Linked DNA regions of Homo sapiens. The protein of the gene in region 3 interacts with the protein of the main gene of each other region in a biochemical or structural test. Each region holds a gene or a part of one and is shown on either strand. Other genes may lie near its edges.

The links.
Region 1: of the proteins of TPPP (region 3) and ROCK1, one has a biochemical effect on the other in vitro, tested with the Homo sapiens proteins (one study listed by BioGRID).
Region 2: the proteins of TPPP (region 3) and TUBB form a complex in vitro, tested with the Homo sapiens proteins (one study listed by BioGRID).

What each region holds. Positions count from the first base shown.
Region 1 is NC_000018.10:21,000,296-21,013,123, forward strand, and holds part of ROCK1 (rho-associated protein kinase 1), read right to left. Parts: intron 7,900-12,828; coding exon 7,764-7,899; intron 6,496-7,763; coding exon 6,404-6,495; intron 6,303-6,403; coding exon 6,056-6,302; intron 1-6,055. UniProt on the Homo sapiens protein: Protein kinase which is a key regulator of the actin cytoskeleton and cell polarity.
Region 2 is NC_000006.12:30,722,409-30,725,922, reverse strand, and holds the end of TUBB (tubulin beta chain), read right to left. Parts: intron 3,387-3,514; coding exon 3,278-3,386; intron 3,006-3,277; coding exon 2,895-3,005; intron 2,584-2,894; coding exon 1,526-2,583; 3' UTR 501-1,525; downstream 1-500. UniProt on the Homo sapiens protein: Tubulin is the major constituent of microtubules, a cylinder consisting of laterally associated linear protofilaments composed of alpha- and beta-tubulin heterodimers.
Region 3 is NC_000005.10:687,416-700,614, forward strand, and holds the start of TPPP (tubulin polymerization-promoting protein), read right to left. Parts: upstream 5,938-13,199; 5' UTR 5,863-5,937; intron 5,329-5,862; exon of another isoform or gene 5,146-5,328; intron 1-5,145.

The DNA.
Region 1 (12,828 bases), on a different chromosome or scaffold from region 3:
GTGTTCGCCCATGCTGGAGTGCAATGGTGCAATCTTGGCTCACTGCAACCGCTGCCTCCCAGGCTCAAGTGATCCTCCGGCCTCAGTCCCCCAAGTAGCTGGGACTACAGGCACGTGCCATCATGCCTGGCTAATTTGTGTATTTTTAGTAGAGACATGGTTTTGCCACGTTGCCCAGGCTGGACTCAAACTCCTGAGCTTAAGCGATCTGCCCAGCGCAGCCTCCCAAAGTGCTGGGATTACAGGTGTGAGCTACTGCACCTGGCTGCCAATCGATTTTCAACAAAGATGCCAAGACCATTTACACAGGAAAGAATAGTCTCTTCAAACAAATGTTGCTGGGACAACTGGATATTAGATGCTCAATATCATTAGTCATTAGGGACAATGAAAATCAAAACAAACAGCAATGGGACAACCACCACATACCCACTAGAGTAACTAACTGAAAAAAAGGAAAATACCAAGTGTTGGCAGGGATATGGAGAAACTGGAATCCTGTACATTGCTGACAGGAATGTAAAATGGTGCAGCCATTGCAGAAAACAGTTTGGAAATTCCTCCAAAGTTACACATAGAATTACAAGATGACTCAGAAATTCCACTCCTAAATATACACCCCTAAAGAATTAAAAACAGGTACTCCAACAAATACTTGTACACAAATGTTGAAGGAGTGCTATTTACAATAGCCAAAAGGTGGAATCAATCCACAGTAATATTCTGTTATATGTATATCATCAACAGATGAATGGCTAAGCAAAATGTGGTAAATACATATAACAGAATATTACTCAGCCACAAATGAATGAACTACTGACACATGCTACAATATAGATGAACCTGTAAAACATTATGCTAAGTGAAAAAAGCCTGACACAAAAGGTCACACATTCTATGATGCCATTTATACGAAATATCCAGAACGGGTAAATTCAGAGACAGAAAGGAAATTGGTGGTTGCCAGGAGATAGTGGAGCGGAGAATAGGGAGGGGCAGCTTAATGGATCCTATTTTGTAGTTTCAAAATGAAATGTTTTGGAACCACATAGAGGAGGTATTTGTGAACATTTTGAATGTAGTAAATGCTGTTGAATTGTATATTTTTAAATGGTTAGCTTTTTGTTACAAGAATTTCACCTTAATTAAAAAATATAGACAGCAAAAGCTGTTAGAAATACAAGGGAGGCTGCCAGGCATGGTGGCTCACGCCTGTAATCCCAGCACTTTGGGAGGCTGAGGCAGGCAGATCACGAGGTCAAGAGATCAAGACATCCTGGCCAACATGGTGAAACCCTGTCTCTACTAAAAATACAAAAATTAGCTGGGCATGGTGGCGCATGCCTGTAGTCCCAGCTACTTGGGAGGCTGAGGCAGGAGAACCACTTGAACCTGGGAGGCAGAGGTTGCAATGAGCCGAGATCATGCCACTGCACTGTAGCCTGGGTGACAGAGTGAGGCTCCGTCTCAAAAAAAAAAAAAGAAAAGAAATACATGGGAGGCTATGAGAAAAAACCCACAATGATAGTGAAAACTTTTAAAACACATTTTAAAATTTGACAGAACAAAGGGACAAAGAATAAATGCAATCTTAGAAAACTGATGGATTACATTAGAAAACGGATCAACTTTTCACCCAAAAAGATGTTTCATACAAAAATCGACAATTTTCAAATGCCCATGTAACAGTGAAATGCAAAAATCATTTATAAACTAAGCCAGAAAAAAAATCATTAAAAGTAGAAATCCCAAAGTAGAAATCTTTTAATAGTTCCTGATCACAATAAGAAATTATTAATTACAAAAAAAATTGTTTCCTACCTCTGTCCATTAAAATCACCTACAAACATTGACCAACCCAACAGTAGTGAGCACCCATAGAATTCAGGTTATAGACCCCGAATGTCATATGCTACAAAAGGAACCGGAGTTCCTAGGCAAATGGGTGATTTCAGGTCTGGGACAAAAAATAATTCTGGAAAATCTATGCATATCAAAAAGCAAGGATGTGATCTAAAACTACTAGGGTAGTGTCTAAACTTAAAGAATTCCTACTAAACTTCATGTGAGCATCATTAAGAATAATGCAAAGGGCTAACATATATTAAATATATTAAAATTCATGAGTTCACAAATATATTTTAAAAATTCACTAATCATCTTTGGAGGATGCCTGGGAAATAACTCACTGTTCCAAAAACTGACAAAGAATTAAGTATTTAACCTGACTTTCTTTTATAAGCTGTACCTCAAAGTAACTACTATATAATTGATGAGGAAATGTTCATCTCTAGAGTAGTATTCCAATTAACAAATGAAGGAAGATGGATAAAAATAGATGATCACCACTGCAAATTCCTAAAGAAACAAAGGACCTAGGCAATGATCATCAATGGCTACTAACACCACAAAAAGATACAGCCAGACTTTATGTTTTTTCATTCGTTTGTTTGTTGTTGTTTTTGAGACAGGGTCTTGTTCTGTTGCCCAGGCTGAAGTACAGTGGCACGATTTCAGCTCACTGCAACCTCCATCTCCTGGGCTCAAGCAATCCTCCACCTGAGCCTCCTAAGTAGCTAGGACTACAGGTGCATGCCACCATACCTCGCTAATTTTTTATTTTTTGTAGAGATGAGGTTTCGTCATGTTGTTCAGGCTGGCCTCAAACTCCTGGGCTCAAGAGATCCACCCACCTCAGCCTCCCAAAGTGTTGGTTTTACAGGTGTGAGCCACTGCACCCAGCCCAGATTTTATGTTTATGTGTCTCCTGGTACCTAAATACTACTTACAAGTATTCTTGACAAAGTCCTACCGAAGTAGATCACATCTCTAGATCTAACGTCTAGTTTAAAGTACTACGGCGGACAGAGCAACATGCTAAATGATACCAGCAGATGAAATCAGTAAAATTCTGAACAGGAGCCACTCACAGGACGAAAAAAACATGGTTTCTTTAACCGAAAACAACAGCAAAAAGAGATTACAAAGAACACAAAAGGGAGGAGGAAAATACAGATTAAAATAAACTTAAGGGACGTATTAATGAAATGCAATGTCCAAACTTTGGATCCAAATTCAAGCAAAATAAATGCAATAAGAACAAATTATGAGACTACTAGAGGAACTTAAGCACTAATTAGATATTTTATAATATTATATAACTGTCACCTATTTTCTACCTTTGATAATGGCATTGTAGTTATGTTTGTCTTTTTAAAAAAGAGTCCCTATCTTTAAGATAATGAAATATTTACAAATTAGGATGTATTTACAAAAGGACAATGTGGTGCCTGATATGAGCTTCAAAATAATTCAGTGTCAGAGGATTGGGAAGGGGAGGTGGAGGTACAAAATGAAACACGACTGGCTACCAAATGAAGGTTTTTGAAGCTTAATGAGTACACAAGAGGTCACTATAGTACAGGTTAGGCATCCTTAATTGGAAAATCCAAAAATCCAAAATGCTCCAAATTCTGAAACTTTTTGAGCACTGACATGACATTCAAGGATTTCAGATTTGGGATACTCAACTGGTAAGTATACATAATGCAAATATTCTCACAAACCACCCAAAATCCAAAATCTGAAGCACTTCTGGTTCCAAGCAAACAATTAAAAAAAACAGAAAAAGACTTTTAAAAATGGTTAATTTAAAAAAATTGATTTTTGCCTTTCAATCTGAAGAATCAGAGATAAACTTACTAGATGAAAGCTTATCAATTCAGTTAAAATTTCAATCCTCCATAACATTTTGATCACTTTCATTAAGCCTCTATAGCCTGAACTTTTGGAAACTTTCCCTATAATCAATTGCAGCCTTACTGTTGCACTAGTCCAGGTACTGGCAAACATCAGGGCTGCAGCCTGTTTCTGTACAGATGTCAAGCTAAGAATGGTTTTTATACTTTAAAAGGTTATAAAAAGTAAAAAATAAAAAAGACTATGCAACAGAGATCATATATGGAGGACATTCAATTAATGAATAACAATCAAGACTCTGCCAGAAGCCCACCATCCCAAACTAAATTTATACTTGAGAGACCTGAAAGTTCTTAAAGACCAGAAAAGACTAATATAAGCATTGTGATTTTTTTAAAAACCCACAATGCACTTTTATATGTATGTTGAAACTCACATAAGTTGTGTGCATTATTTTAGTGTATGTGAGCTTTTATTCACGTTTAAGTTCCAAATTAAACTCTGAAAAAGAATAAACTAACAATAAATCATGCTATAAATTTTCCTTAACTTTTACTGATATCTAAAAAATAGATTCAGTTAAAAACCACTGTTGATAGTACATGGATGATCTCTGCCTCTGAAGCAAGGAGCTTAAAGCTCAGTCAAACACAGATCACAAACTTATAAGAATTTTAGAATTGGAAGGATTTATAGAGGTAACCTATTCTTATCTCCTTGGTTTACAGATAAAGAAGGGAGATGAAGAGACTTTCAAACAGCTAATAAGCTGTATAAAAAGGCCTAGGAAAACAATTTAAGGAAGTCTGTGACTTTCCTATTACATATAAAGTGGTTACTTTCTTAGTTATAATCAGATCTATTTTAAGCCTGGTCCCTGAGAAATATGATTGCACAACACTCCTCAGCTAAGAACCAACAGGAGATTGTATTTTCTGTTTCCTTAGTCACAAAAACTGACCCTGACCTCTCTCCACTGAATTATAGCTAATCATCAAGCCCCAAGGGACCTGAAACTATGTTCCCATCTCTAACTAAGGTTAAAAAGAACTCCTCCCTCCAATTTTTTCCTGAGACATCTGGCAACTTCTATGCATATTTGTTTTGATTAGGTAGTATGGATGCTGCTGCTAACAGGAATAGAAAATAGAAAAATATGTGAGTAGGTAAAGCCAGGAATCTTTTTGAAAACAAACTGAATTTTATTACTATTTAAAAACTGTTCATTTATTCACTTAGTTATACTCAATCTTCTGCCTCTTAGATTCACAAAGACTGTCAATATCTCCAGTTCAAACATTCCCAAGTATCTAACTTTTAATGTGTAATGGGATTTTATTTCTGCAACTGACTTTCTATTACTACCAACGATGCATGAGGAATTCCTAGGTTTTAATAGTGATAATCCTCTTTGCCTGGATTAGTCTCACTTTGAGTAAAACCTTTATGAATTAGGCAAGTTTTTAAATGAAGTTTTTGGTTAATTTGTCTGTAAAACTGAAAAATATCCACATTACATACCCTGCAGGAGTACCTGTGAGGGTGAAGAAATTACAATGTGATACAAATGTGGGCATTATTCTAAAAGAGAAAGAATGCTGGCCTGGTGTGGTGTCTCACACCCATAATGCCAGCACTTTGGGAGGTCGAGGTGGGCGGATCGCTTGAGCTCAGGAGTTTGAGACCAGCCTGGGCAAAATGGTGAAACCCCGTCTCTACAAAAAATGCAAAAATTAGCTGGGCATGGTGGCATGCACCTGTAGTCCCAGCTACTCAGGAGGTTGAGGTGGGAGAATTGCTTGACCTCAGGAGTTCAAGGCTGCAGTGAGCTGTGATCATGCCGCTGCACTCCAGCCTGTGCAACAGAGCAAGTTCCTATCTCAAAAAAACGTAAACAATAAAAAAGAATGCAACCATTTCTGGTTTCACCAAAGTCATTTTCTTTATGAGGGTAATATGATCATAAATATATTAACTTAGACTTAAAAATGGTCAAGATGGTAAATTTTATGTTATATATTTTTAACAATTAAAAATAAAAATTATAAAATATTCCTTCCATTGATAGATGAGTGGATGAACAAAATGTGGTATACACATACCATGGAATATTACTGAGCCCTAAAAAGGAAGGAAAATCTGACACACACAACATGGATAAACCTTGAAGACATTGTGCTAAGTGAAAAAAGCCAGACGCAAAAGGACAAACACTGTATGATTCCACTTATATGATGATGGTTGCATACATTGTGAACTGCATTTAATCCCACTGAACTGTATATATAAAAATGGTTAAAATGTTATAATAAATTTCATGTTACGTATATTTTACCACAATAAGAAAAAATATTACCTTGAAGGTCTCCAATCATCTCAGAATCATGACCTCTGTCTCTTCGTTCAGCTTCTAATATAGCTTGCAGCTGGTAATAATCTTTGTCTGTTTGTGACTTAGAATTCTCTAAAATTCGATTTCTCTCTTGCAACTCTCTGTTCAGGGACTCTAACTGACTAATTGACTTGCTCATCTCTGTGTGACTCTTCCTCAATCTTACAGCTGTGTCCGATTCTGTCCTAAGTAAGTCATTGGCTTCTTCTAGCTATTTAAAAAGAAAGCAAAAAAATAGGTTTCTGACCAAAGTACGATATAATTTAATTATCTACAATTTTTTTAAAAAGGAACCTCATTTGAAACACTTACCTGCTTTTGTAACTGGGACAGCTTCTCATTAGCAAGCTGTGAATTCTGACTGACTTTCTTTAAGTCTTCCAACTGATCCTTTAATGTAGAAACTAGAAAATGAAAGAATAATATATAGAAATTACAACATTTTCATAGGGGAAACATATAAATCCTTTTTTAAAAAAAGACATTTAGTCTTAGGCCATAATAGTCAGCTACATTAGGTCCACTCCCAAAGCCAAATTCCAATTTGGAAGTACCTGCATTTTAAATTCATTAAAAAGTAGAACATTATCTTCTAATACAGAGTGCAAAAAGATTTCTTCTTACTGTTGTAAATCTCAAACTCCTTTATTCCCTTTATAAGATCACTGATAGTATACTTATAAAGCTAGTTTTAATATTATTTATTTTTCAAGAGTTCAATTGCTTGATAATTCAATATCTTAATAAAAATACAAAATTTAAAAGGTACCAAATGGTAGATAGTATAGAATAAGTCCTCCTTTCTCCATTTAGTCATTTTTGCCCCTTCTGAGTCTCCCTTAACTGGCTCTCCTCCCTAATATATATTTAATTTAAGCATATATAGACAAGTACTCTTGTTTTAAACACAAGCAATCCGTTTCTGTCACTTAAAGATCTGTCTTAGAGACTGTTTTATAACCGTATTTAAGGAGATGATTTATTATTTTTTATAAGCCACATAGTATTCTACCATATAGATGTACTAAAATTTATTACAGCATTCATTACCTTTATGTTTCATATATGTATTACATTATGTTTCATATACAGCATTGACTGCATTTTTTTTGTCATTTTAAACAATGCTACAATGAATAGCCTTGTGTATATATCAGTTTGCAGTAGGAGTATGTACGTGAAATAACTTATGGAAGTGAAATTACTGCATCAATGGGAGTAGAAAGGTATTTTAAATATATTTGTAACACAAGCATTAAAACACAAGAAATTCTGGTTTAGAAGTTCTTAGACGCAGCTGCTTGTTAGAAGTACCTAGGGGGCTTGTAAAGAATAATGATACTCAGGCCACATATCTAGACCAATTAAATTAGAATCGCTGGGATTTAGGCATCAGTACTCTTTAAAGCTTCCCAGGAGATTCCAGTATGCACACCATGATGACAATCACTACTCTAGTTAAATGCTACTTACTATTTACTTTAATATGTAATTTAATATTTAATTTAATTACTATTTAATATGTTATAAATTTAACCTGAGACCTGGGTTATTTAGCTTATAAAGTGTCTTAGGATTGTAGCTTCATGTATGTATCATGGACACTAAATTAAAGACAACCTCATGACAGTGTTAGAAATTCTATCATTTTTCAAAAGTAGTGACAATTTACCTTCATTTTCTACATTTCTTCTCTTCTCATTTTCCTGTTCAGCTTTTCTTTGGTACTCATTAATTCTATGCTGTAGCAACATTTTCTCCTTCTCAATCTGAGACACTGTAGATTCTAGATTTCTTCTTTGATTTCCCTGGAATTATAATGATAAAAGTTACCACTGTGATTAATACTCTGGTCATTCATTCAAGTGAGTATTTTGTTCTTAAAAACAAAAAACAAGAAAAAAAAAAAGACAAACACTTAAGATGAATGTTCTGTTTCAAACGCAAATAGTATCTCCTAATACAACTTTCTAAGTAGCTTGCCTTTTAAGAAGACAGTGGGAATCTGTCTTCTGTAGCTGGGACTACAGGGACGCACCACTGCGTCCAGCTAATTTTTCTATTTTTGGTAGAGACGGCTTTTGCCATGTTGGCCAGGCTGGTTTTGAACTCTTGACCTCAGGTGATCCGCCTGCCTCAGCCTCCCAAAGTACTGGGATAACAGGCATGAGCTACTGTGCCCAGCCTAAAATACCCAAATTTTCACAACTTAAAAATGTACCTTTCTGAGTTACCACTATCAGTAAATCTTGTTTTTGATGCTTCACTTTTTAAGACTCCACATTAGGAAACCTGTTTTACAGTGTTTCTGGGCTTTCTCATCTTTAAGCAGAAATTGGACATAAATCATTCAAGGTCTTTCTGATTCTAAGAGTTTATCATTCTAACTTTTAGTTAATTTTTAGATAATTATACATTCAAAGAAAGTTGCAAAGATAGTACAGAGAGGTCCCAAGTGCCCTTCCACTCAGCTTCCCCCAGTAGAGACATTATATATAACAATAGTACAATAACAAAATCAGAAAATTCTCACTGGTATAAGGAGTGTATGATTCTCTCATTTTATCACATATGTAGGTTCATGTAAGCACCACCACAACGAAGATACAGAACTGGTCATCACAACAATTTCTTTCCAGTCACTAGTTATAGCCACACCCATCCCCGTCCTCCCACCACCCATACTCCTGGCAACTAATGGTTCTCCATTTCTATAATTTTGTCTTTTTGAGAATGTTATATAAATGGAACCATGCAATATATGACTTTTTGAGACAGGCTTTTTTTTTTTTTTTTTTTTGTATTTTTAATAGAGATGGGGTTTCACCATGTTGGCCAGGATGGTCTCGATTTCCTGACCTCGTGATCCGCCCGCCTCAGCCTCCCAAAGTGCTGGGATTACAGGCGTGAGTCACCGCGCCTGGCCAAGACAGGTTTTTTTTTTTTTTAACTCAACATAAAGACCTTAAAATCCATCTCTGTATTGTATGTATCTACAGTTTATTCCTTCTTGTGGCTGAGTATTCCATGGTACAAATGTACCGAAGTTTGTTCAACCATTCACCTACTGTAGGACATTTTGATTGTTTTCAGTTTTTGGCTATTACAAATAGAGCTGTTATAAACATTAGTATACAGGTTTTTGTGAGAATATACATTTTCATTTTTCTGGAATACATGCCCAAGAATACAATTGCTAGGTCACATAGTAGGCACATGTTTAGTTTTTCAGGAACACAGCCAATTGGTTTTCCAGAATGTCTGTACCATTTTATATCCCCATCTGCAATGTCCAAGTGATCTAGTTTCTCCATATCCTTGCCAGTTTGCTATTGACATAATTTTAAAACTTACTTTTTTTCATGGTTATGGAGTAATATTTCATGATAGTTTTAATTTGCACTTCCCAAATGACTAATTATGTGAACCTCTTTTCATAGGTTTATTTTCATCCATATATCTAAAAAGTTTAAAAAGTATGGATTCGCTTTCCTTAACACTTATATAGGGCTACTGAAATTACCTATTTCACACTGTATGAGTTGTGATAGTTTGATTTTTGAGAAGTTAGTCCCTTTCATCTACATGTCTTAATTGTGTTTAGAACTGTTCATAGGATTTCCTTATGATTCTTTTGATACCTATATGGTCTATAGTATATGCCCTATTTCATTCCTCATACTGGTAATTTGTGTCCTCTCTTTTTCCTTTATCAGTCTTGCTAGAGGTTTGTTAATTTTGTTGATCTTTTCACACAGCTTTTTGTTTCACTGATTTTCTCTATTGTTTTTCTGCTTTTAACTGCCTTGTTCTCTGCTCTTATCGTTACTTGTCCTTCCTTTTGCTTGTTTTGGGTTTATTTCACTCTTCTTATTCTAGTTTCCAGAAGTAGGAGTTTAAATTATTGATTTTAGACTTTTCCTCTTTTCTAAGGTAAGCATTTAGTGCTATAAATTAACCTTCATCACCATGTTAACAGCATCTCACAAATTTTGATGATGTATTTTCACTTCATTGTTCAAATATTTTGTAAAGATAAAGAGCCATAACAGTTTTATGAGACATAATTAACATTCCAATGTATTTTTTTCACTGAGACTTCTTCTTTGACCTCTGGGTTATTTAGAAGTTTATTGTTTGCTTTCCATGTGTTTGCAGATTTTTCTGTTATTCTCATCTGTACATTTTGGTCAGGAAACTGTATGATTTCAGTGCTTTCAAATGTGTTTGTTTTATAGCTTGGGATGTGGTCTACCTTGGTGTGTGTTCCTTAAGCACTTGAAAAGAAGGCATATTGTGCTGTTAAGCAGAGGGTTCTGTAAATGTTGAACAAATTCTGACAGCTGACAGTGTAGTTGAGTTCTCCTATGTTTGGTGATTCTTACGGGTGCTGAAGTCTCCAACAATAATTATGGATTGGTCTATTTAACCTTCCAGTCTTATCAACTTTTGCTTCACATACTTTGTAGCTCTGTTGTTTGGTGTACAGTTAGGATTTTTATTTATTTTTGGTGGATTGACTCTTATCATTATGTAATATTCCTCTATGTTCATGGTAATTTTCTTTGCTCTGAAGTCTACTTTAATTGGTATTAACATTGCCAATATGCTGCTTTCTTTTTAATATTTGTTATGTTATCTCTTCACATCTTCCGATGTTCAACTTGCCTATATTGTTATATTTGAAGAGTTTCTGACAGATATATAAATGGGGGATTTAAAAAAATCTACCCCTACCACCTCTTTTGATTGGTATTCCATTTAATTTCCATTTAATGTCATTATTGGTAGTATGTTAGGGTTAAGTCTGCCGTTTTTGTTTTTTTGTTTGATCTCTGTTATTTCTACATTTTCTTTCCTGTCTTTCTGTGGGTTACCTGAACATTATTTTAGCATTCCTTTTGATTTAACTATGGTGTTTTTGAATGTATCTCCTTGTAAGGCCTTTTCAGTGGCTGCCCTAGATATTACATTGTATATGCATAGCTTAATATATAGTACACTCCACTGGTATTGGCATCTTACCAGTTTGAGTAAAGTATAAACATCTTCCCTTTCTTCTTTTAATTTTTATCTTATTTATTTTTGAGAAAGGGTCTCACTCTGTCACCCAGGCTGGAGTACAGTGGTATGCTTATGGCTCACTGCAGCCTCAACTTCCTGGACTCAAGCGATCCTCCCACCTCTGCCTCCCTAGTAGCTGGGACTACAGGCGTGCACTACCACACCTGGCTAATTTTTGTATTTTTTGTAGAGACAGGGTTTCACCCTGTTGCTCAGGCTGGTCTTGAACTCCTGGGCTCAAGCAATCCGCTGGCCTTGGCCTCCCAAAGTGCTGGGATTACAGACATGAGCCACCACACTTGACCTAAAAACTTTACCTTTCTTTATGACCCATTACTCTCTGTTTATAATGTCTAAAATATTTTTTCTCATACACAGAGAATCATATTAGACAATATAATTTCTGCTTCAACTGCCTACTATAAAAAATAAAGAGGAGAAAAAAATGTATTTACCCATCTTTTACTGTTTCTTTATTCCTGGTAATTCAAAATTCCTCCTTTTTCTTTTGGAGACAGAGTCTTGCTGTGTCACCCAGGCTGGAGTGCAGTGGTGCGCTTGGCTCACTCCAACCTCCACCTCCCAGGTTCAAGCAGTTCTCTAGCCTCAGCCTCAGCCTCCTGAGTAGCTAGGATTACAAGTACACGCTACCACACTTGGCTAATTTTTTTTGTATTTTTAGTAAAGATGGGGTTTTGCCATGTTGGCCAGGCTGGTCTTAAACTTCTGGCATCAAGTGATCTGCTCGCCTCAGCCTCCCAAAGTGTTGGGATTACAGGTGTGAACCACCCTACCTGGCCAAGATTCCTTCTTTTATCATTTCCTTTCTGTTTAGAGAATTTTCTTTTGCAATTCCTTTAGGGAAGGTGTGCTGGTGACACATTATCTTAGTTTTTCCTCATCTGAGAATGTTGTCATTTTCTTTTTCATTTGAGAAGGATGTTTTAATTGAACACAGAATTCTAGGTTGATAGGTTTGTTTTTTTGTTTTTTTAGCACCTGAAAAAGTCATGCCACTTCCTCCTGGCCTCCATGGTTTCTGATAAGAAATCAGCTGTCACTTACACTGTTGTTTCCTTTCTAGGTAAGGTGTGTCCTGTATTTAAGATTTCTTTTTTGTCATTAATTTTCAGAAATCTGACTATTGTGTCTTGGTGTGGATATCTTTGGGTTTACACTTTTTGTGGTTTGCTAAGCTTCTTGGTAGTTCATGTCTTTTGTCAGTTCAGGTCTTTTGTCAAATTTGTTGAATTTTCTGTCGTCATTTCTTCCCACGCCCTTTCTCCTCTCCTTTAGTAATTCGAGTGACACAAATGTTAGAATTTTATTGTTATAGTTCTACAGGTCCCAGAGGCTCTGTCACTTTTTTTCTGATCATTTTCTCTCTGTTGTTCAGACTGCATAATTTCTATTTTTCTTTGTTGAAGGTCTCTGATTCGCTCCTCTGCATTGTTCACTCTGCTGCTGACACCATCTATTGAGACTTTTATTTCAGTTATTGTAATTTTTGGTTGGCTCTATTTTATATTGTCTATGTCTTTCTGAGACTATTTTTTTGCTTGTTTGTATGTTTACAGTTGCTCACTGAAACATATTTATGGTGATTCCTTTAAATACTTGTCAGATAACTCTAACATCTGTGTCATCTCAGCATTGGTATTAGTTTATTATTG
Region 2 (3,514 bases), on a different chromosome or scaffold from region 3:
CAGTCCCAGCTGCTTGGGAGAATGAGATGGATTGTTTGAGCCCAGGACATCAAGGCTGTAGTGAGCTGTCAGAGACTACAGTAAAGACTGACTGGTGCTCAGAGCAGTTTGGGTACCAGAAACAATGATGTGAGGGTCTATAAAGCAGTCAGTGTCCTTACCAGTACCTCCCTGAGATACCAAATCGGCAGACACCCAAGTCCCTCATATAAAATGTAGTACTTGCATATAACCTGTGTACTTCAAATCATCTCTACGTTACTTGTAATACCTAATCTAATGCAAATATTATGTAAATAATTTATACTATTATTGTTTAGGGAATAATGAGAAGTCTATACATGTCCAGTACAACTCTTTTCCCAATATCCAGTTGGTTGAATCCGTAGGACAGGGACTCAATATTAAGTGTCAATTTAAGGAGAGCAGTGCAACTGAACTCAGGCCCCATGCCTCCATCAGCCAGCCGTGTTTCCCTAAATAAGCACACATCTCGCAGCTTTTTTCAATTCCCATTTATTTTTGGCTCTTGGGGCGATGTCATCTTTTCAATATGAAAAAAAGCAGCAAGTTCAACATAAAATAGAAATCTCAAATGTAGGATAGAACAAAACCAAGTGTGTGAGGGGGGAAGCAACAGCAAAAGGAAGAAATGAGATGTTGCAAAAAAGATGGAGGAGGGTTCCCCTCTCCTCTGGGGACTGACTCAAACACTGATGTGGCAGTATACACCACTCCAGAGTCAGGGGTGTTCATTCTTTTTTGGGAGTAAGAAAAGGTGGGGATTAAGAAGACGTTTCTGGAGGCTTAGGGACCAAGGCTGGTCTCTTTCCCCCCTCCCAACCCCCTTGATCCCTTTCTCTGATCAGGGGAAAGGAGCTGAGTGAGGGAGGTAGAGTTGGAAAGGGAAGGATTCCACTTGACAGAGTGGGACAGACTCCTCCAGAGTAGAGCTTGGAGGGAGATTGAAAGTGGAGATAATACTGCTGACACCTCCCTTGAAGCTGAGATGGGAAATGGACATACTTAGAAATTTAGTGACTTTAATAGCCTGGATTTCCCTCTCCAAAACTTTTAGAATGGAAAATCCCATCCCCTTCCTTATATAGTGACTTCTACCCACTACCTTCTACCATTTTCTACTTTGGGCTTAGGATGATGGCCATTATCTACATGTGTTTTCAGCACCTGGTTGGTTCTAAATGGGATCTGGAGACCCAGCTTCTTGGAGATTTTTAAGAGGAAGTATTAACTGGACAAATGGAATGGGCACCAGAAAGAAATACAGGGTCACCCAGAATGGCAGAAACCTAGGTTTCCCAGAGTGGAAAGAGAGAGGAGACATTCAACAAACAAGTATTTATTGAGCGCCTACTATGTGCCAGGCACTGTTCTAGACCCCCCCCAGAAGAAAAAACAAAAAACAAGATAGAGGCAGCAAACACAAATTCTGAGGGAGAGGAAAGGGGCAGTTGAGTAAGACGGCTAAGGGAACTGAGAAGCCTGAGGTGATGGGGGCTCTGCCTTAGGCCTCCTCTTCGGCCTCCTCACCGAAATCCTCCTCCTCTTCTGCGGTGGCATCCTGGTACTGCTGATACTCAGAGACGAGGTCGTTCATGTTGCTCTCAGCCTCGGTGAACTCCATCTCGTCCATGCCCTCGCCTGTGTACCAGTGGAGGAAGGCCTTCCGGCGGAACATGGCAGTGAACTGCTCCGAGATGCGCTTGAAGAGCTCCTGGATGGCTGTGCTATTGCCAATGAAGGTGACTGCCATCTTGAGGCCACGAGGTGGGATGTCACAGACGGCTGTCTTGACATTGTTGGGGATCCATTCCACAAAGTAGCTGCTGTTCTTGTTCTGCACGTTAAGCATCTGCTCATCGACCTCCTTCATGGACATCCGACCACGGAAGACAGCAGCCACGGTGAGGTATCGGCCGTGGCGGGGGTCACAGGCAGCCATCATGTTCTTGGCATCGAAGACCTGCTGGGTGAGTTCCGGCACTGTGAGAGCTCGATACTGCTGGCTTCCACGGCTGGTGAGAGGGGCAAAGCCAGGCATAAAGAAATGGAGACGTGGGAAGGGGACCATGTTGACTGCCAACTTGCGGAGGTCAGCATTGAGCTGGCCAGGGAAACGGAGGCAGGTGGTGACACCACTCATGGTGGCTGAGACAAGGTGGTTCAGATCCCCGTAGGTTGGTGTGGTCAGCTTCAGAGTGCGGAAGCAGATATCATAGAGGGCCTCGTTGTCAATGCAATAGGTCTCATCAGTATTCTCTACCAACTGATGGACGGAGAGGGTGGCATTGTAGGGCTCGACCACGGTGTCAGACACTTTGGGTGAAGGCACCACACTGAAGGTATTCATGATGCGATCAGGGTATTCTTCTCGGATCTTGCTGATAAGGAGAGTGCCCATTCCAGAGCCTGTGCCCCCGCCCAGTGAGTGGGTCAGCTGGAAGCCCTGCAGGCAGTCACAGCTCTCTGCCTCCTTCCGTACCACATCCAGGACAGAATCAACCAGCTCGGCGCCCTCTGTGTAGTGGCCTTTGGCCCAGTTGTTACCTGCCCCAGACTGACCTGGAATGCAGTCAGGAGAAAAGCTCAATTAACAGGGTATGGAAGATACATGATGTTTCCATCTTTCAACTTTTCAAATAATTCCCTCGGATGTATCTTCTTTCTCCTTCACTGTGATATATTCTCCCCCTACTGCCCCATAATTTACCAGCAATAGTAGGCACTACCTCTACCCTCCGTTAGATTTCAGAACACATTTCTGTATTAGCACTCCAATACAACAATCATCTCCTAACTTTTGCTGTGTCCTTGCACCCAAATAAGTTGAACACGATGGTATATCATCTGCTAATATCATCTGTATAACTCACCAAATACAAAGTTGTCTGGTCTAAAGATCTGGCCAAAAGGACCTGAGCGAACAGAGTCCATGGTCCCAGGTTCTAGATCCACCAGGATGGCACGAGGAACATATTTGCCACCTACAGAGAATAAAGTTAAGAGCTGTGAAATCTGGCAGAAGGGAAGGTTTATAGATATACTGGAAATGGGAGACAGCAGGGATCAGAGACTTGTCATTCCAGGTCCCGCCACCAGGTGGCAGCAGACGTCTTTGGCCCCGACGGTGGTTCACGAAAGGGACAAAATGACAGATTCACCCAAAGGGGATAAGGCGTGCCCAGAAATGGAAAGAGATCCCAGATAAGTGGGAGACAGGGAAGGGAACCTGAGCTGCCCGGGCTCCTGCCCTTACCTGTGGCTTCATTGTAGTACACAGAGATGCGGTCCAGCTGCAGGTCGCTGTCCCCGTGGTAGGTGCCGGTGGGGTCGATGCCATGTTCATCACTGATCACCTCCCAGAACTGCCGAGGGGGAGCAACGAGACCACAACAGGTCAAGTCCCAGCCAACTATGTCCCCAACTACCATTTTATTTCATCTTTTTCTTAATTTTTTTTGAGACGGAGTCTCGCTCTGTCACCAGGCTGGAG
Region 3 (13,199 bases):
ATGGGTGTTAGGCCAGGGCTGCCAACAGCACCTGCCTTCTGAGACACATCCAGCCTCTGGTTGCCCATTTTTAGGTGGAGAAAATGAAGGCTGCATACGTGGCTGGTGTGAGGAAGTCAGCTGACGGGAATTTGCTGATTTAAGGGAAGGTTCAGCTGCGTCTGCATGCTAAAGGGCTGTCCTCCAGATCAGATCTAGAAGCTTTGGGAAGGTAATGCAAAAGAATTTCTGATGTTCTTGGCGTGGGGGAAATTTGTTACACGGACACAGAAAGCCTTGTCCTGCAGGAAAAGATTCTTAGAAGGCACCAGATTAAAAGAAAGAACTTCTGTTCGTTGAAAAAATATCATCAAGAGAGTGAAAAAGCAAACCCCAGGGTAGGAGATGTTTGCTATGCACAACAAATGTTGGCTTGTCTCCAGAATATATAAAGAACCTCTACAAATCGATAGGAACTCAATCCACAAAGGGCAGCTGACTTGAACAGGCCCCTCGGGGACGAGGGTATCCAAGTGCCCAGTGCTCGGTGGGAAGCACTCAGCTTCGTTAGTATGACCAGGAAAATGCAAATCATAAGGCTTCCACACAGCCTTACAAAAGGCTAAGACATTGCAAAGGCTGACAGTGGCTAGTGCCGGCAAGGATGTGGGTCAACAGGAAACTGTGGGGGCGAATGGCTTTAATCCCTTTGGGAAACTGCTTGGCATCATCTGATGAACGAAAAGACACACTAGATCCCAGACTCAACGGCTCCACTTCCAGATTGACCCAAGAGACTCATGACCACATGCCCCAAAGAACATCCCAGGAATGCCCACGACAGCTTCATCCCTAGTTGCCAAGAAAGGGGAACCGCGTGGACATGCACCTGCTGACAGTATGGTGGTCTCAGGGACAGCGGGCATCCCCGTGGGAGTGTGGGCGGCGCTGAGCACGAGCACCTGGGGCTCCTCGACGCAGTGTGGACGGACCACTCGCGCACAGTATTGATCCACGTTAGCCAGCACAGCAGTGTGCCCACCACGTGGCTTCTGGTTAAAGGTTAAAAACAGGCAAAGCCAAAGCACAGTGCTCAGGAATTGCAGCTTCGACGGGAAAACGGACGGTGAGTAAGACCCCATCCCACTCCCGGAACACGAAGAGAGGCGGCCCAGAACGGCTGGCACTAGAACTGCAGGTGGACTGTGCCAGGTGCCAGGTGGGGCCCTCCCAGCAGGCGGCCTGGGGACACGTGGGCACTGACGAAGGTGGCAGGAACAAGCCTGGTGGGAGGTGAGGCTGAGATGAGCTTCACCCCAGTGGCTCTGTCCATGGCCCAGGCTCCTCAGGCACTGAGAAGGCAGAGGTGCCACCCCGCCGAGGGGCAGAGAAAACCGGCCCTTGGGCAGCCTTAGGAGAAGCGGGGGCCGGTGTGCGCAGGAGAGGGTGGACGCCCCAGATGCAGCCACGGTGGCCAGGTCACCTGCGAGATGCCATGGGTGGGAGATGCAGGTGGCTGTGCAGCGGTGCCCTGGGCTCAGGGGGAGGGGCTGGGTCAGGTCCCCGGGGCTGGCTGGGGCCTGGACATGGCTCCCTGGCCCTGAGGCACCAGCAGCACTTCTGAGTGGGGTGGGACTGGCCTGGTGTGTTTCTGGGCGGGGATCCAGTGTGAGTGGGTGAACAGTGAGTGGCAGCCATGGGCACGCTGAGGTACGCACACTTCACCCACCTCTGTGGGCCAGGAAGGCATGTCACATACTCCTGACAAGGCAGAGGGTGCTGGGAGCTCGCCTGTGTCAGACATGAGGGCCCTTGGACCAGGGCCTGGGTTTGAAGCCACCTCCATACCCCATACACGGTGCTCACTGCTCCTGGCCCCATTGACTGATGACTGATGGCCAGAGGGGGACAGCAGCTGTGTGAAGTCGCCTGGCAGGTGCGGCTGTTGGTGGCACTCCCTGGGCGGAGGCCACGTTGGACATTTGTGAACAAACGAGCAGGTTGGGGTTACAGGTTATAGGATCTGGGAAATGTGGTCTGTGATGCCATGCGCCCTGGGGGATCTCATGGAGCCCACATGGGCAGGCACCTTTTATCATGCCAAGAAGTCAAACGTGGGATGCCATGTGGGGAACATGCCCTGGGTGGGGGAATACCCTGGGTGGAGATGCCATGTGGGGAGGATGCTCTGGGTGGGGAATCTTTGTGGGGGTTGTCCTGGGTGGTGGAGCCTTGGTGAAGGAATGGCCTAGGGGGTGGCTCTGGGAGGGGGTGGCTCTGGGATGTGGATGTCCTGGGAGGGGGATGTCACCTTAGGGGGAAAGCCTGTTGCAGATGCCCTAGGAGGGAAGCCCTGTGTGAGAGATCATCTGGGTGGGGGCTGCCCCGGGTGGGGGATCATCTGAGTGGGGGCTGCCCTGGGTGGGGGATGTCCCCGGTGGGGGATCATCCAGGTGGCAGATCATCTGGGTGGGGGATCATCTGGGTGGGGGATCATCTGGGTGGAGGATCATCTGGGTGGGGGATCAACTGGGTGGGGGCTGCCCTGGGTGGGGGCTGCCCTGGGTGGAAGATCTTATCAGGGGGATGCAGTGGGTTATGGCCCTGTGGCAACCCCAAACACACACACACCAAGAAGAAGCTGGTCTCCCTAGGAGGAGGATCCACGCAGGGCAGCTTGGGGTTTGGCTCGTGGATGCTGGGGACAAGGCCTGAGCCCCAGATGTGGCTGGGCCTGACCCAGGCAGCTCCACCCCTTCCTTCCCAGGAAACACCTTTTGCTCGAGCAGTAGGAACTAGGCGTGTGTAGATTCTGCTGCCTGATCCTGGCTCCTGGCTGAGGGTTTGTGGGCTCAGATGGACTAGACACCCGGCCACAACCCTCCTGGGCATAGCCTTCTGGCTCCCCCAGCCCAGGCGGAGGCATTGAGCGACTCTCCTCACCCAGAGTGTTTTCCCGAAGGCGCTTCTGCCTGAGGGCACCAGGCTGGGCCAGGTACTGCAGGGCGCTGACCAGCACTGGCCTGGGGGCCCCAAGAGCCCCAGATGGCATCCCTCTCACACACTCCCCCTGTCTCACCAACAGCTATAAATAGACTCGGCTCTCTGCTGGCACGGCCTCTCCCGAGGAAGCTTTTAATTCTCTGCGTCCTCTGCAGGGGGTGGCTCCCACAGGCCTGGGAGGGAACAGACTGCCTGACTCTCCAGAGAGCTCCCCAGTCTCCATCTGCGATGGGTGATCCTAATTTTCTTCAGGAAGTTCTCCTGAGCCCTGCGTGTGGCGCTTTGGCCTTTGTGCCCACGGAAGCCCCCTGCGGCCCCTCCCTCCGGGCCCTGCCCAGCCCGGTGCACGAACCCTGTTTACCGATTCCCAGGCCTAGGGCAGCCACTGCCAGTGTGAGGCTTGCAAATTAGGGTAGGGGGTCAAAAGGAAGCCCCTGTTGACCATTTCTGTGAGCATTCTATGCTCATTTCCACAACGAGCATTTATAACCTCGTATAATCGCTAAAACATTTATTGCAACTTCAGGGAATTCGGGAAGATAGACCAACCGCAGCTGTAAGATTAAAACGCAGCCAGTGACCAGCGGAGCTTCCTCCACGCACACGCGGTCCAATCCCCATGACTTCATGTTTTGTGAAGATGCAAAGCGAGTTCATGCCGGCGCCTTTCTGAATCAGAGATCCGTTTAGAAACCATGAAAGCTGCAGACCCCTCCCGGGAAAACGCACACACCCTCCTGGAGCTCGCCTTCTGCAGCCGCTCCGGGAGCCCGCCCCTCCCCCACAGGCCCTCCGAGGATCACGTGGTGGGGAGGCGCTGGCACCGAGCGGCTGACAGGCGCGAGAGCCCAGTTCAAGGCGGCGGCATCAGGCTGCAGCTGCCTCACTCCCCTCCACTTCCTGCCCCTTCCCGGCCTTGGTCCAGCCCCATCTCCTAGTCCCAGGCCACAGGGAGCTGGGTCACCTCCCAGGGGCAGGGGCTGGCTGGGCGTGGGGGGAGACCTCTCCCCCTGAGAAGTCAGGCGGGGAGGGGTGGCCGGGGTGGGCGGAGGGGCCCAGTCCTCTATCGGTCCCCCAGGGGCCCTGCAAGCAGAAGAGCCAATAAACATGCCAGGTGGATCAGCGGTGACACTGAGAGGGAACGCAACACCCCATCAAAACAGCAGCCCCCCAACCCCCATCAAAACAATAGCCCCCAACCCCCATCAAAACAGCAGCCCCCAAACCCCATCAAAACAGCAGCCCCCAACCCCCATCAAAACAGCAGCCCCCAAATACCCATCAAAACAGCAGCCCCCCAAACCCCATCAAAACAATAGCCCCCAACCCCCATCAAAACAGCAGCCCCCAACCCCCATCAAAACAGCAGCCCCCAAATACCCATCAAAACAGCCCCCAACCCTCATCAAAACAGCAGCCCTCAACCCCCATCAAAACAGCAGCCCTCAACCCCCATCAAAACAGCAGCCCCCTAAACCCCCATCAAAACAGCAGCCCCCCAAACCCCCATCAAGACAACAGCCCCCCCAACCCGTATCAAAACAGCAGCCCCCAACCCCTCATCAAAACAGCAGCCCCCAGACCCCATCAAAACAGCAGCCCCCCAACCCCTATCAAAACAGCAGCCTCCCAACCCCTATCAAAACAGCAGCCCCCAACCCCCTATCAAAACAGCAGCCCCCCTAAGCCCCCATCAAGACAGCAGCCTCCCAACCCCACATCAAAACAGCAGCCCCCCAGACCCCATCAAAACAGCAGCCCCCAACCACCTATCAAAACAGCAGCCCCCAACCCCTATCAAAACAGCAGCCCCCCAACCCCCTATCAAAACAGTAGCCTCCCAACCACCTATCAAAACAGCAGCCTCCCAACCCCCTATCAAAACAGCAGCCCCCAAACCCCTATCAAAACTGCAGCTCCCAACCCCCTATCAAAACAGCAGTCCCCCAACCCTATCAAAACAGCAGCCCTCCAACCCCCTATCAAAACAGCAGCCCCCCAAACCCCTATCAAAACAGCAGCCCCCAACCCCGTATCAAAATAGCAGCCTCCCAACCCCTATCAAAACAGCAGCCCCCCAAACCCCCATCAAGACAACAGCCCCCCCAAAACCCTTATCAAAACAGCAGCCCCGCCACTGCCCGGGAGGGACAGGCTTCTCACCTCCCTCGGCTCCGTTTACGTAACCGAAACCGCAGAATAAAGGGCTCCTCAGATCTTCGGGCGCTGCTCCCAGGGGTGCGGGAAGGTGTCCCGGCAGCGCCTCTCCATCGCCACAGGCCCGCGGACAGTAGCCAAGACCCGGGGCAGCTGGAGGCTCTGCGGGGGGCGGTCTGACAGCCCCACCTGCCAGGACGCGGTGGTGTCAGGACCCTGAGATGGGCCGTTTCTGTGGCCAGGGATCTCTCAAAACCTGCTGCGGGCAGTGACTTCATTCCAGCCCTCCACGCCCTAATTTCCCACGCCTCACACCGGCGGCCCCCTAGGCCTGGGAATAGGGAAACGGTTCGAGTCCCGAGCTGGGGAGGGTCTGGAGGGAAGGGCTGCAGGGGCGTCCGTGGCCGCGAAGAAAGGCCAAAGCGCCAGGCACAGGGCCCGGAGACGGTGACAGACCTGTCCCTGGCGCGGCCGACGGTGACCCCCGCTCGCGGCCTTTGCAAAGCCTCCCCGTCGCGTCCTCGCACCGAGCCCGCAGCGCCGAACTCCGGGCATCCCAATCCGGGGGCTCAGGGACGCGCGGGGCGGTCCGGGAAGGGGGCTCGGGGGAGCGCGGGGGGCAGGGGCTGCGGCGCAGGTGGCTGCTGGGGCTGACGGGCCCAGTCTCCGCCCCCGGGTGCCCCCCGCGCCGCGCCCGCGGGACCGAGCCCCGCGCCCGCTTACCTTGGAGACGCAGCGACTGCAGCGGAGGCGCCTCCGCGACTCGGCCGCGCGCGACCCGGTGCTCAGCGGAGCTCTCCAGCCGCCGCCCCGCGCCCGCCCGTCCCGCCCAGCACCGCCCAGCCCCGCCCAGCCCGGTCCCGGGCCCGCCCCCGGCCCCCAGCGTCCGGCGCCCGCCCAGCGTCCCGCCCCGCGCGCTCATTGGCAGCCCCGCCCCCGCCGCCCCACCCGGCCCGGGGACGCGCGGGCGCACCGAGACCTCTGCCTTACAAGGCCGACTCTGCTCAGGCCCCGCGGACCGCCGGGTATCCGCTCAGCGCAGGGCGCGGCCGACCCGCGGGTCGTGGGAACCGCTGGGCAGGGGGCGGCGGGGCCCCTCACCTGGCTCTGGGGCCCCCCGGGGACGACCGGACCCCGATCTCTCCGCCCCGCAGGACGCGCGTTGACGGTGCGGCGGGGGATGGATGAGCGCGGCCGCGGCCTCCTGGGGTGGGGTGGGTTGGCGGCGGGGCCTCGAGGACGGTGCGGGGCGAGCCCCGACCGCGCCCAGTTCTTTAAGGAGCCGCAGACGGTGCAGGGAAGCGGCAGGGCCGGGCTGTGAGGGTGCTCGGACCCCAAGGCGGGGCGCACCCAGGGGACTGGGCTTCCAGGTGGGGGCAGCGCGGCCGGGGATCGACCTGAGCAGGGAGACGGGTCCGTGCCGGGCGCCCAGCGCAGCTGCTCGGGAGTGGGCCGCCCTTCACGCAGGAGTGGAGGAGCGGAGCGCGCACCCCTGACCCCGGCCTCAGCTTCCGTTCTCCCTGCAGGTCGCCCGTATGCAGCGCCACCATCCCGGCCGCTCTTCCAATCTCGCCTTTCTCCGGGCACCTGCCGCCCCTCCCCCGCTCCCCAGACAGGCTTTGCGGAGGGGGCTCATTCCGCCCGGGGCTGCCCGGCCCTCCGCAGGAGTTGGCTCCCCACAAGGTTCCGGGGCCGAGATGACAGGGCGGTTCTGTGGTGCTGGGTGCTGGGACTTGAGGGGCATAGGGGCACCTGCCCTGGAGGAGGCCGAGGCGCAGCCCCCCAGGAGGAAGGGGTGCCTCTGGTGACTTTCAGCTGGACTCTTCCAGCTGGACTCTAGTGCAGCTGAGCTCCTCCCCCAGCCCCGGCTCTGTCCCTGCACCAGGTGTCCAGCAGGCCCTGGAATCCGCAAAGGCAGAAGGGGAAGTTGGGGTGCTGGGTGCTGGGCAGGGGGTGCTGAGGCCTCACAGCCCGGCGGCTTGGCCCCCACCCACCCCACGGTGGTCCCGCGCCCCACACTTCCTCTCCTCTCCTGTGGTTTCTCCTTCCACTCAGTGCTGCCCAGAGATGGGCTTCTGTCTAGTTCTCCTGAGAAATTCCACACTCGCAGCTGGGAAGTCGGGGGACCCCCGAAGCTGTGCGGCGGCCACGCTGCGGCTCCTGCTTCCCTCCTGCTCGGGTGCGGGCTCGGCTGCCTTCTCGTCCCGCGGAGCCCGGAGTGCCTCCCCCTCGGGTAGATCCTACTAACAGCATCAAAGAAATAATGAAATAATCTCTCCTTGGTGTGTTCTTACCGTCCTAATAGGCACAAGGGGACTCTTCAGTGCATTTTCCAAAACCTGTACAAACTCTCTTGACATAAATGCAGTGAGTTTACAATAAAATCGCAGTGGGAGGTAACGTCAGGCTTCAGAGGCAGACATGGTCCTGGAGCCTTTGGGAGGAGAGGAGAGGAGAGGCAGCGGGCGCGGGGCGGCGTCCAGGGGGCTGAGCGAGGTCTGGGCAGGAGGACAGAGCTGAGCCTTGGGCTGCCCTGGCCCCTGCGCAGGACACACAGTGACCGGGGCTGGGGTGGGCACCCCGGTTCTACCGTCGGGAGTCGGCGTGTTCATGGAGTCTGTTTCCTTGTCTGTGGGTGAAACTTTGGCTTGGGGTCACGGGTGTGTTATTTCCCAGCGACAGTCGGTTCAGTCAGCACTTACAAAATCACCAGAAACAGGGGCACAGGATCTTGCTCAGCAGGGAGAGGTGGATCCTGATTCGGGACTCCAGGCTCTTCACCTGGCCATGGCTGCCCGTCCGGTGGCCCTTCCTGGCCCCCAGCTCTTGCTCCACTGCCAGACCTGGACAGCCTCCATTAACCCTGCAATTACTGAAAACCGACTCACAGCCAATGATGTGATCCACGCCAAGTGTCCCGTTATAAGATGTTTCCTGGGGATCCTTAGAAAATCACTACAAATGGGTTGAACAACAGGGCTTTCCTCTTACGGCTTAGGAGGCCAGAAGTCCGAGATCAAGGCCTGTGCGCTCCGGAGGTTCCCACCTCTTCCAGCTTCTGTGGCTCCAGGCGGTCCTGGGTGGTGGCCGCATGGCTCCACCTCTGCCCCTGTCCTCACGGGGCCTCCTCCCCCGAGTTAGTGTGTCTGTCTCTTCCTTTGCTTATCGGGACACCTGTCACTGGATTTAAGGGCCGCCAGGAGAAGCTGGGATAATCTCAAGATCTTTAATCGAATTACATCTACAAAGATCCTATTTTAACGTAAGGTCTTACTCTGAGGTTCCGGGTCAATGTGACTTTCTTGGGTGGGGGTCACTACCACCCCAGCACCAATGCTTTTCCCAGCTCCACCTGTGTTACCGTGTCAGTGACCAGGAGCGTTCCCCGGGACACCTGCCTGCTTGTAGCTGTTTCCACGGCTTCCTGCACAGGTTCTGCGTCCGCAGTTGGGAGCACCAGGCCAGGCAGCTGTCACATAGGAGGAGGACAGCTCTCCGGGACAAGCCCCTGCTGCCTGGCACCCGCGCCCACCCCTGCCTGGGTTTGGGGTTGGGTTTTGTGGGTAGAGGTTCAGGCTGACAGTGGAGGTTGGGAAGAGCAGACACAGCATGGTGGGTAGCACTGGAAGCCCTGGGTGGAAGGGATGGTGGGAGATGCTGGGCCATCTGGGTCTGCAGTGGGAGACCAGGACAGGAGCCCAGGTCCATTGGGAGGCCCCATGCTGAAGACAGAGGCACGGGGAGCGGGGGGAGCAATGGACTCACGCGGACAGCAGCAGACATGAAAAGGCCTCCGAGGCCAAGTGTGAGGATGCCGGGTCCCAGCACTGAGGTGTCCTGCAGCTGGACCTGTCAGGTGTCCACCCACCCCTGGCAGCTGAATGTCCTTTGACGGCCTATAGGCTGAGCAGCTTCTTTGGGCCCCGTAGGGGTGTGTCCCACAGCAGGTGAGCAGTCAGGGCCCCTTGAGAACCCTAACCAGCTCCTGTGTGGGCCCTGGGCTGGGGACAAGCTACAGCCTAGGTGCATGAGGTCAGAGGGGGTGGTCAGTGAAGTAACGACGTGCCTGCCTGGGTGTGGGGCCTGGGAAGCCTCATGGGGGTGTTGAAGCAGCTCCCATGGGTCCTTGGCAGCTTAGGGAAAATGTCTGCCGGGATGTGTGTGTGCACCTGTGTGTGAGAGTGTGAGAGTGTGCACATGCATGCGTGTGTTTGTGCATTCCTATGTGTGAATGTGCACCTGTATGTGTGAGTATGCATGCCGGTGTATGTATGTTGGTATGTGTTCAGCTGTGTATGTTCAGCTGTGTGTGTGTCTATTTGTGTGTCTCTGTGTGTATGAGTGTGTCTGCGTGTGCCTGTGTCTCTGTGTGTGCATGTGTGTTTGCACCTGTATGTCCACGTGCCTGTGTCTGTGTGTTTGCATGTGTGTGCATGTGTCTGTGTGCCTGCGTGTGCCTGTGTGTGCATGGGCCTGTGTGTCTTTGTGTGCATGTGTGTGTGTTTGCACCTGTGTGTGTGCACGTGCCTGTGTGTGTTTGGGCTGTGATTGCATCTGGTTATTCTGGGGGTGGAATTGCTGTGGAACATGGAATTAAAGTGCAGGTTCCGGGTCTTGCTGCCAGGGAGCGACTCTGGCCCCCCTATCACACACCTGTGACCCAGAGAACGGCAGGTGAGCCTTGCGGCTTCACTGTTGCCACAGGTCAGGGGCTGATGAGGAGGGGAAGCCAAATGGGGGGTGTTCAGCCCTAGGCTGAGCTGCTTGGAGCACATTCTTAATACGCCAGCCATCGCTACCTCAGTTCCACAGCCGATGTTAGGGAAGAAAGATGCGGGGACACGGCAACAGGACAGCGTGCTGGGAAGAAAAGATGTGGACAGGAGCCCATGCCTGGCAGAGACACGGAGGACCAGAGAGAGGATGGCGTTGCAGAGCGGAGGGCCGCAGAGAAGGGAGGAACTTGTGTCTGCAGTGGAGAGGACACACCCCTCTGGCAAGGGCAGCCCTGGGTGTGGCTTTCAGAGGCAGTGGGCAATGAGCTCTGTAAAGCCGAGATGGCTCCAAGCAGACCACAAGGAGCCTGGTCAGCTTCTGTCCCTGTAACTGTTTTCCCCACTGCCAGAAGTGGCTTCACTTGTTGTGTGGATGCCCTGCACTCAGCCCAGGACTAGATGGATTCACAGCCAGATTCTACCAAACATATGAAGAACTAATACCAATCCTTCTGAAACTATTCCAAGAAATCGAAGAGGGGGGATATCTCTCTAACTCATTCTATGAGGCCAGTATCACCCTCGGACCAAAACCAGACAAAGGCGCAACAAAAAAAGAAAACTCCAGATCAATATCCCTGTGAATATAGATGCAAAAATCCTCAACGAAATACCAGAAAATAGAACCCAACAGCACATCAAAAGGATAATACACCCTGATCAGGTGGGATTTATCCCAGGGACGCAAATCAATAAATGTGACGTATCACATGAACAGAATTAAGGATAAAAACCATATGATCATTAAATAGATGCAGAAAAAGCATTTGATTAAATTCAGCCTCTCTTCATGATAAAAATTCTCAACAAATGAGGCATAGAAGGAACATGCATCAACATAATAAAAGCCTCATATGACAGATCCACAGCCAACATCAGAATTAAGGGGGAAAAGTTGAAAGTATTCCTTCTAAGAACTGGTATAAGACATGGATGCCCACTTTCACCACTCTTATTCAACACAGTACTGAAAGTCCTGGCCAGAGCAATCAGGCAAGAGAAAGAAATAAAGGGAATGCACATTGGAGAAGAAGGAGCCCAAACTATCCCTTTCTGTTGGTGAAATTATATTCTACATAGAAAACCCTGAAGACTTGTATCACTGCTGGTAAAGACATGCCTGAGACTGGGTAATTTATAAACAAAATGAGGTTTCATGGACTTACAGTTCCACACGGCTGGGGAGGCCTCCCAGTCATGGTGGACGGCAAAAGGCAGATCATACACGGCAGCAGGCAAGAGAGAGGGTGAAAGCCAAGTGAAAGGGGTTTCCCCTTATAAAACCATCAGGTCTCATGAGACTTATTCACTCCCATGAGAACAGGATGGTGAAAACTGCCCCCATGATTCAATTGTCTCCTAGCTGGTCCCTCCCACAACACACGGGAATTATGGGAGCTACAATTCAAGATGAGATTTGGGTGCGGACACAGCCAAACCGTATTACGACTCCACCAAAAAACTCTTAGATTTGATAAATAAATTCAGTAGCATTTAAGGACACAAAATTAATGTACAGAAATCAATAGCATTCTTATACACCAATAACAATCTGGCCAAGAACCAAATCAGGAAGGCAATCTCATTTATTGTAGCTACAAAAAATTACCTAGATATATATTTAACCAAGGAAGTGAAAGATCTTTATAAGGAGAACTACAACACACTGATGAAAGAAATCATACATGACACAAACAGAAAAGCATCCCATGCTCATGGATTGGAAGAATCAATATTGTTAAAAATTATCATACTGTTCAAAGCAATCTACAGACCCAACACAATCTCTATCAAATTAGAAAAAAAATCCTAAAATTCACATGGAACCCAAAAAGAGCCCAACTAGCCAAAGCAATCCAAAGCTAGAAGAACAAAGTTTCAGGCATCACATTACCTGACTTCAAATTATACTACAAGGGTATGGTAACCAAAACAGCATGGTAGTAGTACAAAAATAGACATCTAGATTAATGGAACAGAATAGAGGACTCAGAAATAAAGACACAAAGTCAATAAAAATCAGGAAATGACACTGAGGAAATGACACCCTTTTCAATAAATGGTGCTGGGAAAAGTGGATTGGCATATGCAGCAGAATGAAACTGGACAAATACCTCTCACCATATACAAAAGTTAACTCAAGAGGGATTGAAGACCTAAACATAGGACCAAACACTATAAAAATCCTAGAAGAAAACTTAGGAAAAATTCTTCTGGACATTGGCCTAGGCAAAGAATTTATGAACAAGTCCTCAAGAGCAATTGCAACAAAAACAAAAATAGACAAATGGAACTTAAACTAGAAACCTTCTGCACAGCAAAAGAAACTATCAACAGGGTAAATAGACAACCTGCAGAATGGGAAAATATTTGCAAACTATGCATCTGACAAAGGGCTAATATCCACAATCTACAAGGAACTCAAACCAAATAAGCCCATTAAAAAGTGGGCAAAGGATATGAACAGCCATTTTTACAAAGAAGACACAAAAGTGGTCAAAAAACATGAAAAAAATGCTCAACATCACCAATTATCAGAGAAAGGCAAATTAAAATCTGAATGCAATACCATCTTAGACAAGTCAGAATGGCTATTATTAAAGTCTAAAAGTAAGAGATTTTAGTGAAGATGTGGAGAAAGGGGAATGCTGAAGTACTGTTGGGGGGAATGTAAATCAGTGTAATCTTTCTGGAAAACAGTATGGAGATTTCTCAAAGAACTAAAAATAGAACAACTATTTGGTTCAGCAACCCCACTACTCGGTATATACCCAAAGGGAAAGAATTAATTATATCAAAAACCACCTGCACTTTATGTTTATCACAATACTATTCACAACAGAAAAGAAAATGGATGAACCTAAGCATCCATCAGTGGAGGCCTGGTTAAAGAAAATGTAGCATATATACACAAGGTAATACTACCCGTCCGTTAACAAAGAATGAAATCATATCTTTTGAGCAACATGGATAGAGGCCATTATCCTGAGTGAAATAACTCAGAAACAAAAAGTCAAATACCACATGTTCTCAAGTATAAGTGGGAGCTAAACAATGTATACACATGGACGTATGGAGTGGAATAAGATGACACTGGACACTCCAAAAGGTGGGAGGGTGGAAGGGGGTGAGAGTTGAAAAATTACTTCTTCAGTACAATGTTCACTATTCAGGCGATGGGTACACTAAAAGCCCAGATGTCACCACTATGCAATATATGCATGGAAGAAATCTGCACTTCTACCCCTTACATCTATAAATATTTTAAAACTCTGTTCTTAAATA